3 separate regions of the Homo sapiens genome follow, and regions 2 and 3 are each linked to region 1. Evidence: fine-mapped expression QTL. A gene starts in region 1. Each other region holds a variant in brackets. All regions are shown on one strand. Distances are from middle to middle. Region 1 holds the start of SEC14L2 (SEC14 like lipid binding 2). Region 2 overlaps LOC105372990 (a long non-coding RNA gene). Region 3 overlaps SF3A1 (splicing factor 3a subunit 1).

Evidence for each region.
Region 2: its variant is fine-mapped to the expression of SEC14L2 in whole blood (TOPMed, PIP above 0.99). The same link has a PIP of 0.9 or more in blood mononuclear cells.
Region 3: its variant is fine-mapped to the expression of SEC14L2 in whole blood (INTERVAL, PIP 0.97).

What each region holds. Positions count from the first base shown.
Region 1 is chr22:30,393,936-30,399,187 of GRCh38, forward strand. It overlaps SEC14L2 (SEC14 like lipid binding 2), which reads left to right and starts at 3,083. Exons shown (of 12, transcript NM_012429.5): 1 at 3,083-3,235. The coding sequence starts at 3,182. RefSeq lists silencers at 3,326-3,395, 3,416-3,475.
Region 2 is chr22:30,433,126-30,438,377 of GRCh38, forward strand. It overlaps LOC105372990 (a long non-coding RNA gene), which reads left to right. Exons shown (of 4, transcript NR_148046.1): 1 at 1-119; 2 at 492-770; 3 at 1,167-1,260; 4 at 1,896-3,376. Among named protein-coding and RNA genes, the nearest start is that of MTFP1, 10 kb to the left of the region's middle. RefSeq lists an enhancer at 2,693-3,214. The variant G/A (reference allele first, on the strand shown) is at 2,740.
Region 3 is chr22:30,328,618-30,333,775 of GRCh38, forward strand. SF3A1 (splicing factor 3a subunit 1) reads right to left here. Exons shown (of 16, transcript NM_005877.6): 16 at 3,371-5,158. Among named protein-coding and RNA genes, the nearest start is that of TBC1D10A, 4.3 kb to the left of the region's middle. The variant A/G (reference allele first, on the strand shown) is at 2,108.

The DNA of each region.
Region 1 (5,252 bases):
GGGAAGCTTCTCAGATTGAAATGAAGTGTGTGGAGAGGGCAAGTGGCCGTTGGTGCCACAAGGAATGCTGGGCTGGGGTGGGGGTAGGCCTCAAATGCAGATCAGTGGGATTGAGTCAACTCAGGAAGGAACCGGGGAGCCATTGAAGATTCTTGAGCAGGGGTGCAACATACCTAGCAGGGAGGAAGAACTGTAGGGCAGGGATTAGGGGATGGAGAAAAAGTGGGGATGGGAAGGAGGGACTCTCTCTTGTTAGCCAGCTCCAGGACTTCACCAGATTATTTATTTATGTGTTTTTGTTTGTTTGCTTGTTTTTTTTTTTTTTTTTTTTTAGACCGAGTTTCTCTCCTGTTGCCCAGGCTGGACTGCAGTGACGTGATCTCGGCTCACTGCAACCTCTGCCTCCTGGGTTCAAGCGATTCTCCTGCCTCACCCTCCCAAGTAGCTGGGTTTACAGGCGCCCGCCACCATGCCCGGCTAATTTTTGTATTTTTAGTTTCACCATGTTGGCCAGGCTGGTCTCAAACTCCTGAACTCAGGTAATCCACCCGCCTCAGCCTCCCAAAGTGCTGGGATTACAGGCGTGAGCCACTGTGCCTGGCTAGGTTTTTTTTTTTTTTTTTTTTTTTTTTGAGACAGAGCCTTGCTTTGTCGCCCAGGCTGGAATGCAATGGTGCCATCTTGGGTCACTGCAGCCTCCACCTCCTGGGTTCAAGCGATTCTCCTGCCTCAGGCTCCCAAGTAGCTGGGACTACAGGTGTGTGCCACCATGCCTGGCTAATTTTTTTTTTTTTGGTATGTTTAGTAGATACGAGGTTCACCATGTTGGCCAGGCTGGTCTTGAACTCCTGACCTCAGGTGATTCACCCACTTCAGCCTCCCGAAGTGCTGGGATTACGGGTGTGAGCAACCGAGCCTGGGCCTATTTAGGATTTATATGATCAAATTAACTAGCTGTTTTATGGTGGGCCAGAAGTAGGTTAAGTCTCAGTGGAGGAAGAAGAAAGAGGCAGCTGTTGAACCTGGGAAGGGCAGGCCTGGGGAAGGGTTCTTTACCGAGGCTTTTATTTGGGTAACTTCAGATGCGGGGAGGGCTGTATCCTGCTGGGTGAAGGTGATCTTGTACTTTCGTGGGTAACTTTCGCAGGCAGTTCCCAGGCCCGTCCACACCTTGGCCTGGGAGCATACGGCCTAGAAACCACAAACTTGGGTTTAAGTCCCAACTCTGCACGTGCCCACCTATGACCACCTCTCCCTCAGGCTCCTCAATAAGTCACCTGACCTGCCTACCTTAGAGGATTGTCCCACACTTAAGTGACAAGCTAGATCTGAAGGTACCTTGTGAGCTCTAAGTTGCTGAACCAATATAAGAGGCTGTGCTTCTTGTTTTTATTTTTTGTTTGTTTGTTTTTTTTTTTTAGAGGGAGTCTTGCTCTGTCGCCCCAGACTGGAGTACAATGGTGTGATCTCAGCTCGCTGCATCCTCTGCCTCCCAGGTTCAAGCAATTCTCCCACCTCAGCCTCCTGAGTAGCTGGGACTACAGATGCACACCACCACGCCTAGCTAATGTTTGTATTTTTAGTAGAGACGGGGTTTCACCATGTTGGCCAGGCTAGTCTCAAACTCCTGACCTCAGGTGATCTGCCTGCCTTGGCCTCCCAAAGTGCTGGGATTATAGGTGTGAGCCACCGCGCCCGGCCAAGATGCTGTTCTTCTATAATAGTTTCCTTTGAGTAGGCTCTAGCCTGGAAAGAATATCCTGGCCCTGGAAGGGTCTTATATAAAGATCTTAGCCATGTATCCAGTAAGGAAGGCAGCCCTGTCCTGCCCCAGGCCAGAAGCCAGCGAGCCTAACTAGGGCAGAACTGCCTGAAAACTCTCTGTAGAGGTGGGCGTTGGGGGCCTCAACCCTCACTCTGCACCCTGCAGCAGGCGTCTATGGAGGGGGCCACACCAAGGGCAGAGCAAAGTCCTTAAATGTCTTTAACAGGCCTGGTGCCTTTGCCTCCAGGTAAGGAGAGAGACTGGGGACATTCTGCTTTGTCTCTCCCAGAGACTTGAGTGTTGAGGGGGCAGAAGTATGGCTCTGGGAGACGAGATGCCCACAGACTCCTGGACCTAGCTCTGCATTAATTCCAGGCCATAAGGGGAGGGCACAGCTGAGCACTTTCCATGTGCCAGGCAGTGGGCACTCCACATATGTCATGCCACTAACAACTTTGGGCAAGCCATGCCTTATCTGGGCCTCAGTTTCCCTAGCTGTTAAACGAGGTAAGTTGCATGATCCCTGAATGATCTATGTTTCTCTCTCCCTCTCAGGGTTCTGCCAGCCCCGGGATCTGTGTCTCTATTGGAGCAGTTCTTACATTCATTCATTCATTCAGGATACATTTATTAATAATCCCTGTAGGCTGGGCACCGTGGCTCACATTTGTAATCCTAGCACTTTGAGAGGCCGAGGCGGATCACTTGAGGTCAGGAGTTCGACACCCGCCTGGCCAACATGGTGAAACCCCATCTGTACTAAAAATACAAAAATTAGCTTGGCATGGTGGCGTGCACCTGTAATCCCAGCTACTCGGGAGGCCGAGGCAGGAGAATAGCTTGAACCCGGGAGGCGAAGGTTGCAGTGAGCCGAGGTCGTGACACTGCACTCCAGCCTGGGTGACAGAGCGAGTCTCCGTTTCAAAAAAAAAACAATGCAAAAACAATCCCTGTGTGCAGGATGCTGTGCTGTCCTGCACTATGCGAGCCTGGTTAGAAGAGCTCATTAGATAGCACCTTTCAATCCCTCCTTGTTCAGAGGCCCAGAGAGCTCAGGTGTCTCTTCCAAGGTCACACAATGAGGTAAGGATAAATTTGGAACTAAAACTGAGACTCCCTGCCCTTCTGATGCCCACTGGCCTCAGTCCCAGTGGGCACACTTGCTCGCCTCCTGCCTGGGTCTCTGACTTCAGGAGGGCGGAGGGGGCCCGTGTCAGAGCCTTCCGCGCCCCAGCGCATCGCTCCCTACTCCGCCTCTCGGGATCCTTTAAGAGGCGGGGCTTGGCTGCCAGCTCCGCGGCCCGGGCAAAAGGCTGGGACTTTACTCCGGGTGGCGGCGAGGACGAGTCTGTGCTCCATCAGCTGCCGCACCCGCCGCCTCCCGCCCCCAAACCCCATCCCCGCGGTTGAGCCACGATGAGCGGCAGAGTCGGCGATCTGAGCCCCAGGCAGAAGGAGGCATTGGCCAAGGTGAGCTGTAGCCCTGGCCCGGGCTCCCGCCTCGGGCTGTGGCCCTCGCCCTCCTGCGGCAGCGAGAAGGGACGGGGCTGGGTGGGGGCCGAGGGTCCGTGGCGGGCGGCGGAGGGAACAGAGGCGGCTGTCCCAGCCTGGCCCGCGCCCGCGGATGGCTCCTTCCTCCCTTTGCCACCCTCGAGGTCCCAGGAAGTTTGGCCACCCCCCGCCCAAGCTCTGAGCAGCCGTGGCGGTGCCACCTGGGGACAAGTGGTTGCTTGTGAGTCCCCGGAGGCCGCTGAGGGCACAAAGGCAACATTCATCCTCGGGACTGGCAGCCGGGCCCTGGGGCAGGGGCAGGGGCAGGGGCCCAAGTTTCCTCCCATTTCCGGGAGGCTTTCTTCTTGTAGGGTCAGTGGCACGATGGAAAGGGCTCTGGATAGCTCCTTGGGAGACTTGGATAGCTCCTGCCCCGGCACCAAGCCGCTGTGCGACCTTGGGCAAAACCCTGCCCTTCTCTTTGCTCCTCGATGCCATGGAATGAGGAGGTTGGACCAGATGATGTTGAAGGGAACACCTCCGTGTGTGAATTCCAGGCTCCCCCCATGAGGCACTGGGTTGGTGTTAGTTTGAGCTGAGACCAGCCGTCCCCTATCTTGCATCCCAGACCCCTGCCTGGTTCAGGACTTAAGGTTTATGCTCCTCAGAAGGCAAGAAGGTGAGCCTGGCTTTGCCTTGGCATCTGTGACAAGGAGGGGGCAACAGTTTGAGGGCGGGACCTTCCTCTTCACGAACTAAATCTCTTATCTGTCACCCCTGGGGAGTGAGGAGGTCGGCTCTTCTCTGGGCAAGAGCCGATAGGGTCTGGCCCCAAGATTTGGAGGCTCCACAGCTGGGGAGTTTTCCATGGCTGGGAAAGGTGGGGCGGGGGGCAGATGTATCCTGCCACTGGCAGCAGTGGGGAGGCACCAGCTCCATAAAGCCTCTGTCCCAGGCTGGGCCTCCCCCATCCCAGGAAGGCTGGACAGGGAGGCTTCAGATTTTACTGCTGACTCGCAGGAGAGGTCAGGCAGAGAAGGGATTAGGTGGTGATTAAACTGGAGACCAGGGGCTGGTTAGGGTCCTTGGAGAGGGGTAGCTTCATGCCTGCAGTTTGGAGGAGCAGTTTCCCTGGTGCACTGGGAGCTGCTTTGTGGGGTGGGATGGTCTGAGTCCCTGGCTGACCTAGGCAAGGGGCAGAGGTGGCCAGTCCTCATTAGTGTCCTCTGGGACTGCCCTCTAGGTCAGTGGTCAGGGAAAGGTGAATGGCTGGGAGCAGGAGGCTCAGGGAGGGCATATAGGGGCCTGTTCGCCTACCAGGGAGTGAGAGGTTGGAGGTAGGTGTGGCTGTCCATTGAGGTCACTGTCCACCTCCTTTGTTTGGCACTACCTGCACTTTCCCGCTTCCTGGCTTCCCCTACTGGAACTGTTCCCTCCACCTGAGTTGCCCACCTCTCTCCCCCGCTGCCTTTGAAGTCCTTCAAGCCCAGCACAAATGCCATGTTTTATAGGAAGCCGTGTGAGACCACCTCTTTCTTCCCTCTGCTCCCCAGCAAACTCCTCATCCTTCCATGGGGCAGAAGACCATGGTGGAAAGAGTGTGTGCTCTGGACTCAGACAGACCCGGGTTTGCATCCCAACTCTGCTAATGACTAGCTGTTTGACCTTGGGCATGTTACTTAGCCTCTCTGAGCTTTAATTCCTTCATCTGTAGAATGGGGACAATACTTCTACGGGTTGTGAGTGAGGAGTAAATAAGCTATGGTGCCAAGATCAGCGCTGAGCGACAGGAAATGCTTGGTAAACTGACAGCTTTTACTGCAGTCCGTATCAGAGTGCCTACTATCACGATTAGCTGGGAACACATCTGCCTGCCCGCAGACTGGTGTGTGGGAGCCCTTGTTGTGGGGCAGGGGCAGTGTCTCACTCCCTTCCCACTTCCTGCCCTGCAACCTGGCACCCCCTGACAAGACAGTGCTCCAGGCAGCATGAGTGC
Region 2 (5,252 bases), 39 kb after region 1:
CCTTTACAGGTATATGTGGACGAGTGTGTGATCAGCCCCAGCCAGGATATGGAAGTGGCCCCTGCACACTACAGCCTTGTCAGGAATCATGGGTACTGAACCTGGAGGAGGAGGATAGGGTAGGATGGGTACAATTCAGTGGGTGATATCTCTGGGGAGGCTGGGACAGGGGCTGAGAGCCTTCCAGGGCTGGAAGGCACGGATGCCCAGATAGTGCTCCCTGGGCGTTCTTGAGTAGTCCTTTCTAGGCCAGGGGAGCAAGAATGCTTTACTGGCCCTTTCACCTCTGGAGCCTCTGTTTGCCCTTCTGTGAAATGGGGATAGTGCCAGAATCTTCAAAGCCTGCTGTGTAGACTGAATGGGGTGACGCTTAGCTCAGTGCTTGGCATGCAGAATTCTCAACAAATGATGGTGTATGGTGGTGTTGGGGCTAGGACCAGATCCCAGTTCAGGGGTCTGACCCTGATGACCTTCCAACCTGTGCCTTCCAGGTGCCTGGTGAACGGCAAGAACTTCCACTCCCACTTCGTGCCCCAAGAGGTCCCCAAGAGACTGGAGCTCTCCTTCCAGGCCTTCAGCTTTACTGGTACTCCTGCTGATGTGAGTGGAAACAGATAACCCCCTCCCCACTCTGCCACCCCGTAGGAACAGAGACCCAAGCTGAGGAATCTTTGGAAGTTACGGGGTGCACCACAAGCTGTTGCTCTGGAATCTAAAGGTCCCATCTGATGCTACCAAGAAGGCCTGTTCCTTCCACAGGGGCACTCATGGTGAGTCATGTTCACCAAAGGTGTACTGCATGCCTTACCCTGTAACTGGCATTTGAGGTACATGACCTCACTTAATTGTGTGGGAGGTGAGGAAACTGAGGCTCAAAATAGCTCAGATTGAATTTCTGCAATAGTTCCCCATGCTTGGCTGGACCACAAGCCCAACTGCTTTGGCCTAGAGTGGGCAGTGTGAGGTATACTGGGAATGGAGGCTTTGGACTGTGACCTAGACCCAGGTTCAAATCCCAGCTCCAGCTCTTGCTGGCTGTGACATCATGGGCAAGTCACTGACCTTTTGTTAGCCTCTGTTTCTTTGCTTGTTAAATGCAGGTCTGGTCCATGCCACCCCTAGCTCCCATCTCTGGTGCACTGACCACCTCCATCCCTCACCTCTAGGTAAGAACTTCTGGATGCCTCCCTGGGAGTATGAGTGACAGTTGTGAGATTACCTGCCTGGCCCCCTGATTACCCTATCAAAGGTCCTTGGCAGGTAGGAGGCCCCTGTTTTGGGTGTGGAGGGTGGAGGTAGGCTCTGAGGCAAGGGAGGCAGCTGGCCCGGGGAATCAGTCACAGCCTTGCATGAACAGGCTTATAGAAGACATCATCTTGCTACTAAAGGCCTCTGAGGAAACTGACACTGGCCTGGACCACAAAGACCCACTCAAGGTGCCCATTGATCAGAACCAAGGAGGGTCCTGGCTTCTGGATCCTGTCTGGAGAGGCTTCTACTGTGTGGGACCTTGGGCAAATCCTTTCCCTTTCTGGGCCTTGGTTTCCCCAAGTGCAAAATGAGAGCATTAGATTGGCCTGCCACTTTTGAGCCTCTCATGTAATCTTTATTAAACAGATATCTGGAGACCCCTTCACCTCCACCCACATAACCCTTGATATATGCCCTTCTGAGAGTTTCATAGAGGAGAGAGAAGGCTTGTAGTCACTCACACCATAGTATAAACAACATGTTATCTTTTCTGTCCTTGGAAAAAAAATAGCTTCATATTCTCTCAACTTTCAGTATCAGTAAACAAATAGTAGAAGGTCAGAAGTTTATAGCTGTGTGTGTTGGGGGTGTGAGGGGATGTTGTGTTGTGGCTTAAAACTGTCTTTGATGTCTTTGGCTTCCAGATTCCAATCAGGCCTCTGAGAAGGCTTCCCATCAGGCCCCTGAGAAGGCTTCCAATCAGGTGACAGAGAAGGCTGACTTGTCCTCTGAACTGAGTCAGGCTTCTGACTCTAGGGGGCCTGGAGACGAGCAAGGGAGCCCTCTCCTGTAGCCTGGGCTCTTCTCCAGGTCCCCTTCACAGTGAGAGACACTGGAGCTCTGCATCCAGTGGTCTTTGGCAGTCCCTGTAGAACCAGGCTCTGGCTTCCTCCTTCTCCCCTCCCTCTCCTCCCTGGGCCCCCATTTGTGGCCTGCCAGGGCAGAGCCTGAAACCTCAGGCAATCTGGCTGTAAGCTTGCTTACCTCATGACCTTGGAAGCCACTTACCCCTTTGAGCCTCCTTATCCAGAACAGTAACTGCTGCCCACTGCATATTGTTAATACATGCTGCCTTTGTTGCCTGCCTGCCTGCCAAAGGAGGGGCCAGGGCTTCCATTTTTCTGTTTAATCCTCCCAAGAATCCTCCCAATAATCCCATGCAGTAGACACAATCAGGTCCCATTCTATAGATGGGGAAACTGAGGCTTGAGGTCACATAGGCGTCGTTCAAGGCTGGTATACCTGCACCCTCTCCCATGTGAACAACATGGTTCTGGGTAATGGGGGCTGTCATCCAGTCTCCTCCCTGCCCCTGCTGGTGCACTTCCTGCCTCTGCTGGTGCACTTTCTGCCCCTACTGGTATATTTGCTGCCTCTGCTGGGGCGCTTCCTGCCTCGGCTGGTGTATCTCCTGCCCCTGCTGGTGCACTTTCTGCCCCCGCTGATGCACTTCCTGCCTCTGCTGGTGCACTTCCTGGCTCTGCTGGC[G/A]CACTTCCTGCCTCTGCTGGTGCACTTCCTGGCTCTGCTGGCGCACTTCCTGCCCCTGCTGGTGTATTTCCTGCCCCTGCTGGTGTACTTCCTTCCCCTGCTGGTGCACTTCCTGCCTCTGCTGGCGCACTTCTTGCCTCTCCAGGCCCTACCTAGCCTCTCCCTCTTATATATGGAAGTCTTCCCAGTTCACTGACACTGGTAACAGGGACTCTGCTCTTGGTGTTGCTGTCTGCCCTGGGGATGGGCATCTGTGTCTTCCTTTACTACTGCTGGCTCAGGACCCAGAGCTTTGAAGCATGTCCAGATGCAGGTCCGGGCACCAGAGTCTAAGGAGCCCCTACACCCACCAGGATTTTCCAATAAAGAGATGTTCACCAATGAGTTTAGCTCTCTGGTTTTCCTGAGGAAGGGCTGGGAACATGAGGTCCCCAGAACAGGGGCCACTGTTGGGGATACTGTCTTAGGCATGGCAGGACTCAGACAGGGGTGGGGAGGGGTGGAAAGAAGTGCGTTTTTCCTCCAAACCTGTGGCTGCCTTGGGTAGGCTGGGCTCAGAGCACTCCTGCCTTTGCCCCTTAATGTTTGAGAAGCCCAGCAGCCCCCTAGGGCGGAGGTTGAGCCTCTTGAGGATGACAGAGAGGAGGGCCCATTGGAGGTTTACTTTGCATATCCTCTTGCCTGTAGACCAGTAAGTGGCATGTCACAGCTGGCCAGTAGGGATGACAGCCAATTGTTAGCTTTTCAGGAATTTTATGAGCTCGTTGTTAGACACAGCCATTATTAAAAATTAAATAATGTAGGCTGGTGTGGTGGCTCATACCTGTGATTCTAACACTTTGGGAGGCCGAGGGAGGTGATCTGCTTGCGCCCGGGAGTTCGAGACCAGCCTGGGCAACACGGTGAAGCCCTGTCTCTACAAAAAATATAAAAATTAGCTGGATGTGGTGGTGCACGCCTGTAGTCCCAGCTACTCAGAAGGTTGAGATGGGAGGATCGCTTATGCCCAGGAGTTTGAGGCTGCAGTGAGCTGTAATCACACCACTGCATTCCAGCATGGGCGGCAGAGTGAGACCCTGTCTCAAAAAAAATAAATAAATAAACAATATAAAAAGATCAAATGATATAAACTTAGATTTAAATACATTTTACTAAAAACAAAGTAAATGCTCAAAACTTGTTGCCTCGTAATCATTTTACTATCTTAATAGTAAATATTTTACTATCTTACTATCTTACTATCCTTACTATCCTCACTATCCTTACTATCATCCTTACTATCCTTACTATACCTTACTATCATCTATGCTCTTGGGAGCTTATTTACATCTATTCTGTTTGGTGGAAAGACCACATTATCATGTGCTACTGTGTATCGCTTTATGTGGGAAGCTTGAAATAGGCCATAGTGGACACATTTATACCATGGAAATTGACAAGGCAGGGTCTCCATACCTAGAAAGTCCTGTAGTTTACCACCATTCTTCTGACCCTCTTGCTAACCCAGAGGGTAGGTAGTGTGAACCAAAAGTATCTGAGACAGGTCTCAATCAATTTAGAAAGTTTATTTTTCCAAGGTTAAGGATGCACCTGTGACAGCCTCACCCTGATGCCATGTGCCCAAGATGGTTGGGGCACAGCTTGGTTTTATACACTTTAGGGAGACATGAGACATCGATCAATGTGTGTAAAATGTACATGGGTTTGGTCTGGAAAGGCAGGACAACTTGAAGTGGGGTGGGGGCTTCCAGGTCATGGGTCGATAAGAGATAAAAGTTTGTGTTCTTTTGGATCCTTATCAGCCTTTCACTGAATAACAATTTACATGTGAGCCGGGGTGGCGGGTAGAGGAATAGTCACTTATGCTTTAGTCTGGCTCAGTGAAGCTGCATTTTTACATAAACAATAAGGGCAGAGGAAGCAATCAGATGCATTTGTCTCAGGTGAGCAGAGGGATGACTTTGAGTTCTGTCCTTTGTCCTGCACCTGTGAAGATCAGCTATTCATTTACATTGCCAGGGTGAAATCCAACAGAACTGTTTTAGGGTAAAAATCTTGAGGCCTACAAGGAATTTCCTTGTGGGCAAAATGTGCATGAGGTATGTAGCTTTTTAATCCTTGTAGCTATCTTATTTAGGAATAAAATGGGAGGCAAGTTTGCCTGATGCAGTTCCCAGCTTGTCTTTTCCCTTTGGCTTAATGATTTTGAGGTCCCCAGATTTATTTCCCTTTCATAGTAGATAAACTGCTCCCCATTCCAGACTTACATTCTAAGAATCAGAGAAGGCAAGTGACCTGGCAAAGGCCTCCCAGCATATATGGTCACAGGTAAAACTCAAGCCTGGTCTGTTATTCCCTCCCCAAAACTGCCTGGTAGGGAGAAGGGAAAGCCAGCCTCAGCTGTGACTGACTCCTGGCTATCTGGAGCTCTCCCTCCAGATTCCTTTCTACCTCTCTGGCTGTCACCCCAGTGCTAAGAGCCTGGGCTCAGGCCCTCCTCTCTCTACCCTGGC
Region 3 (5,158 bases), 65 kb before region 1:
CCCCAAGAGGGGGTCTTGAGCCTTGAGTGATTTCACCTTGATGCCATGTGGCCTGGACATTCTTGATGGCGTCATTGTACAATCCTCACATTCCATGAGCTTCTGGCTTTCCATAAACAAGGCAAGAACAGACATGGGAGTGGGCACAGGCTATTTTGGTCTTAAACCCTCAGTCTAGGAGGATGTTCCTTCTCTTCAGTGACTCCAGACAGTGGTGGGCTCCTGGTCCCAGCTCCCAGGAGGGGCGGTATGGGTCTTTCATGGTGGTATGGGCCTATCCCAGGAAAGGGAGGGGGAGGAGCCAGACATACCTGGGGCAGATGTGAAGCCTCAAGTACAGCAAAGAAAAGTATCCACGACCCTTTGACTTCATGATTCTATCCCTAGGGTTATATCCCAAACATGTTCTTACTCAGCTCTGTGAGGGCACAAATATAGAGACGTTCACCCCAGGGATATTTGGGGAGGGGGTAGATTAGAGACCCTGAGTGTTCATCTTTAGGAGACTGTATAGATGTTACTCCAGTGATGCTTCAGCTTCTAATTTTCTTTAATCAAACCACCAGGATTTGAATTTATGCTCTGTGACCTTGAGCAAATTACTTCTCTCTGAGCCCATTTCCTCATCTATAAATTGGAAATTCTGAAAAAATTCTTCCTTGGAAGAATTGTGCTGAGACTTTAGTGTGACAGTATGCGCTAAACACCTGGCACATGGAGAAGCCCAGTAAATAATGGCCAGGAGCTGGGCGCGGTGGCTCATGCCTGTAATCCCAGCACTTTGAGAGGCTGAGGTGGGTGGATCACTTGAGATCAGGAGTTCGAGACCAGCCTGGCCAACGTGGTGAAACCCCGTCTCTATTAAAAATTCAAAAATTAGCTGGGCGTGGTGGCAGGCGCCTGTAATCACAGCTACTCAGGAGGCTGAGGCAGGAGAATCGCTGGAACCTGGGAGGCAGAGGTTGCAGTGAGCAGAGATCACACCACTCCAGCCTGGGTGACAGACAAGACTCCATCTCAAAATAAATAAATAAATAAATAAATAAATAATGGCCAGGAGTGGTGGCATTTGAAGCTTGCAAAAGGAATTGCAAATTCATTATTGTCTTGAGTGTTCCCCATCACAGCCTGTGGCTGCAGCGGGGGAGTTTGCCCAATTTAACCTATGGCACGTGGCTTGGGAGACTTCACTTCGTGGCTGTGCCCCTCAACAACTGGGTGTCCTTGTGTGAAATTGCTAACTTTTGTATTTTTTTGTAGAGATTAGGTCTTACTATGTGGCCTAGGATGGTCTTGAACTCCTGGGCTCAAGTGATCTTCCCGCCTTGGCCTCCCAAATTGTTGGGATTACAGGCGTGAGCCTCCATGCCTGGCCAAACTCCAGAGTTCTTTATTTAATACACCTATAATGAGCCAGACATTAGTGCAGGGGTGTCCAACCTTTCGGCTTCCCTGGGCCACACCGGAAGAAGAATTGTCTTAGGCCATACATAAAATACACTAACGATATAGCTGATGAGTTAAAAAACATTGCAAAAAAAAATCTCATAATGTTTTAAGGAAGTTTACAAATTTGGGGCCGGGCGCGGCTCATGCCTATAATCCCAGCACTTTGGGAGGCCGAGGAGGGCGGATCATGAGGTCAGGAGATCGAGACCATCCTGGCTAACACGGTGAAACCCCGTCTCTACTAAAAATACAAAAAATTAGCCGGGCGTGGTGGCAGGAGCCTGTAGTCCCAGCTACTCGGGAGGCTGAGGCAGGAGAATGGCGTGAACCCGGGAGGTGGAGCTTGCAGTGAGCCGAGATGGCGCCACTGCACTCCAGCCTGGGCGAAAGAGCAAGACTCTGTCTAAAAAAAAAAAAGAGAAAGTTTACAAATTTGTGTTGGGCCACATTCAAAGCTCTCCTGGGCCATGGGTTGGACGAGCTTGCTCTAGTGAATAAGAGAGATGAAGTCCTGGCCCAATAGAGTTTATAGTCCAGTGGAGGAGGGACAACATGAACAAGCACAGAACATCTATCAGGTAGTGAGAATAAGAAAATAAAGCCAGGTAAGGTATGGAGAATGCTGGAGTAGGTGTTGGGGAGGTGGTATGGGCTGAAA[A/G]TGAGGGACCCCTTCTGCAGGACTGAGAATAGTGTACAAGCATGGCAGCAGATGATTTTCCCCTTGAAGGAGAAGGAGGCTGTGTTGTTAGATTGGAGTGAGAAAGCAAGGGCAACAGTGAACCAATGAATAAATGATCAGAAAGGAGCCCTGCAGAATCACGTGGTTCACTGGAATAAAGAATTTAAGAGGCCTTAGGCAATGCTGTGGAACATCCTGGTGAACTGGCTGTTGGAGACATTCTTTTGAAGATAGAATGTGTTGATATCCCAGAGTCTCATCCTGCTGGGGTCATTCCCAACAGCTGGGCTTGAGGATCTCACATAGGCCCCTCTCCTGGATCCTGGAATGTGCAGTTGGCATGTGCTCAGGAAACCTGTGAGCACTGGCCATGAGCAAAAGTCCAGATGCCCTTTTTTTTTTTTTTTTTTTTTTTGAGACGGAGTCTTGCTCTGTTGCCCAGGCTGGAGTGCAGTGGTGTGATCCTGGCTCACTGCAACCTCCACCTCCCGGGTTCAAGAGATTCTCCTGCCTCAGCCTCCCAAGTAGCTGGGATTACAGGCACCTGCCACCTGTTATAACAGTATTCTCTGTAATGATCTATTTTAATTTTAATTTAAAAAAACTTTTTTAGAGATGAGTTCTCACTATGTTGTCTAAGCTGACTTTGAACTTCCTGGCTCAAGCAATCCTCTTACCTCAACCTCCCAAGCAGCTGGAACTACAGGTGTGTCACTGTGCCTGGCAGGAGTTTATCTTGTCCTGCTTCATGGACTGTAGTGTCCAGGGGTACCTAGAATTGTTCACTTACATGCTGGGAGCAGTGTCAGGGCATGGTGTCAGGGAACTCACCAGGCAGTGTTCTTTTATATAACAATGCAGCCTTTTTTTTTTTTTTTAGACAGAGTTTCAATCTTGTTGCCCAGGCTGGAGTGCAATGGTGCTATCTCAGCTCACCACAACCTCCACCTCCTGGGTTCAAGCGATCCTCCTGCCTCAGCCTCCCAAGTAGCTGGGATTACAGGCATGTGCCACCATGCCCGGCTAATTTTGTATTTTTAGTAGAGACAGGGTTTCTCCATGTTGGTCAGGCTGGTCTTGAACTCGCGACCTCAGGTGATCCGCCCGCCTCGGCCTCCCAAAGTGCTGGGATTACAGGTGTGAGCCACTACACCTGGCAACAATGCAGAATTAAAAAAATGTAACAATACAGAATAGTTAACAGCAAATCTCCATATCTGGTAGAGTTAATGATCATAACTCTTAAGATCTTACATTTTGCTTTTATTTTTAAAAAGTAAACTTCTAAAAATCTTATACACTGGTATGTGTACCCATGAGTAGAGCTATATTATGCTTTCTTGTCTAATTACAGGGATAAATGAAATATGATTGCTAATAGTACATGTATTTCCATTCAAGTATATATCCTAACATAACCCAATATAACCATTTAATATATTCTCTAATACAATATTATTAATTTTAAAGTAAAATGGTTCTGATCATTACTGGCCTCCTCTAAGAGTACATGACAAGTACTTAAGTAGTGGGTAGAACTGAAAGTGAAATTCCTTAATGTCTACAATTCCTGGAGCCCTCTGCATGCAAGTCTTCAAAATTATGGTGACTTAAGTCCCACACCACCTGTTTTCCCAGCAGTCCTGCAACAGGAGCACTTATTCCTATTTCATAGTGTGGTCTGGTGGAGCAGAGCAGTGTGGTCCCCAGGAAGGGATGAGCTGCTTTGGCTTTCCAGAGCACTCACTGGCTACATGACCTTGGGTATTCCACCTCGTTTTAAAAATGGGGCAGATAATCCTCAGGAGATTGCAAGAAGAATCAGAAAAGCTGTGCAGAGCAGCTTTGTATTATAAACACTAGGACGCTACCTACATGCTGCAGGTCCTAAACTAGTGCAGTGCCAAGCAGCACACTGGGCCTGTGGCCACTGATGTTCACAAGGCCTCATGGTCAATGGAGCTTCTGCATCTGAGCGAGCCAGTACAGATATTCATTCAGGAGCTCCAGGAAACTGGATTTGCTCTCTAGAGGGCAGCTCAAAGGGCCCATTCACTCACAATCCACCCAACGGCATTCCTGGCCTCCGGTCACAGCCTCAGCCACGGAAGTCCTGCAGGGTTTGCCAGTCTGTGGGGGTGAGTGCCCTAACACCATGAACTGCCCACTGCTCCCAGAAAGAAAGAAGAACTTGGAATATGAGACTCCCCAGGTCTCCTGACCCTCTTCCTTCTTGGAATGAGACCCAGGTAGTGCTCAGGGGATTTCTGGTGTTGGCCATGGACAAGCAACCAGTAGTGGGCTCACTTTAGGGACGCAAACCACAAAGCCCACCTCAGGAAGCCAAATTTCAACTCTTGCCCCTGGGGCAAACTTCTAGCAACCAGGCCAGAGGCAAATGTCAGACAGGATAAGGGATGACATCCCATCAATCAAGTTGAAAATGGGAGGGACCCAGCAGTTTGTAATAAAGCCATAAAACTGGTACTGACTCTGGGTGAGAGGGAGAGGCAGGGTGGTGACTAGAGAGCTGGTTCTGTGACCTTGGGAAATGGTCTCACCCCTCTGAGCCCTGGAGATGACCTGATGGGGCAGCTAGGAGGTCCAAATGGAAGGACTGCAAATAAAAGGCACTGGGAACTCTCAGGGGCCACACACATGTGAGATCTTCCCAATAAAATCAGCCTTAGCTTTAAAACCAGGAAATTGTTAGCAACAGGCTCTCACCTTCCTCCAACACCCACAGCATTGCCTATCTCCCTGTGATAGCTTGATTCTAAAGATAACAGCCTGCCTTTACTCAGAAACCAGGACTGTGACGTGTTTTGCACACATTCTCTTTTCACTTTCACAGTGTGTGACTATGGCATGCAACTTATGTTCTCTGTGCCTCAGTTTACTCAAGTGTTAAACAGGAATACTCACATGAGGATTACATGAGTTAAAATGGATAAAATGGATAAAAGTAGAGAGTAAATTATTTAAACTTTATCAAATCCTTGGTACATGACCTTAATACAATTAAGTATT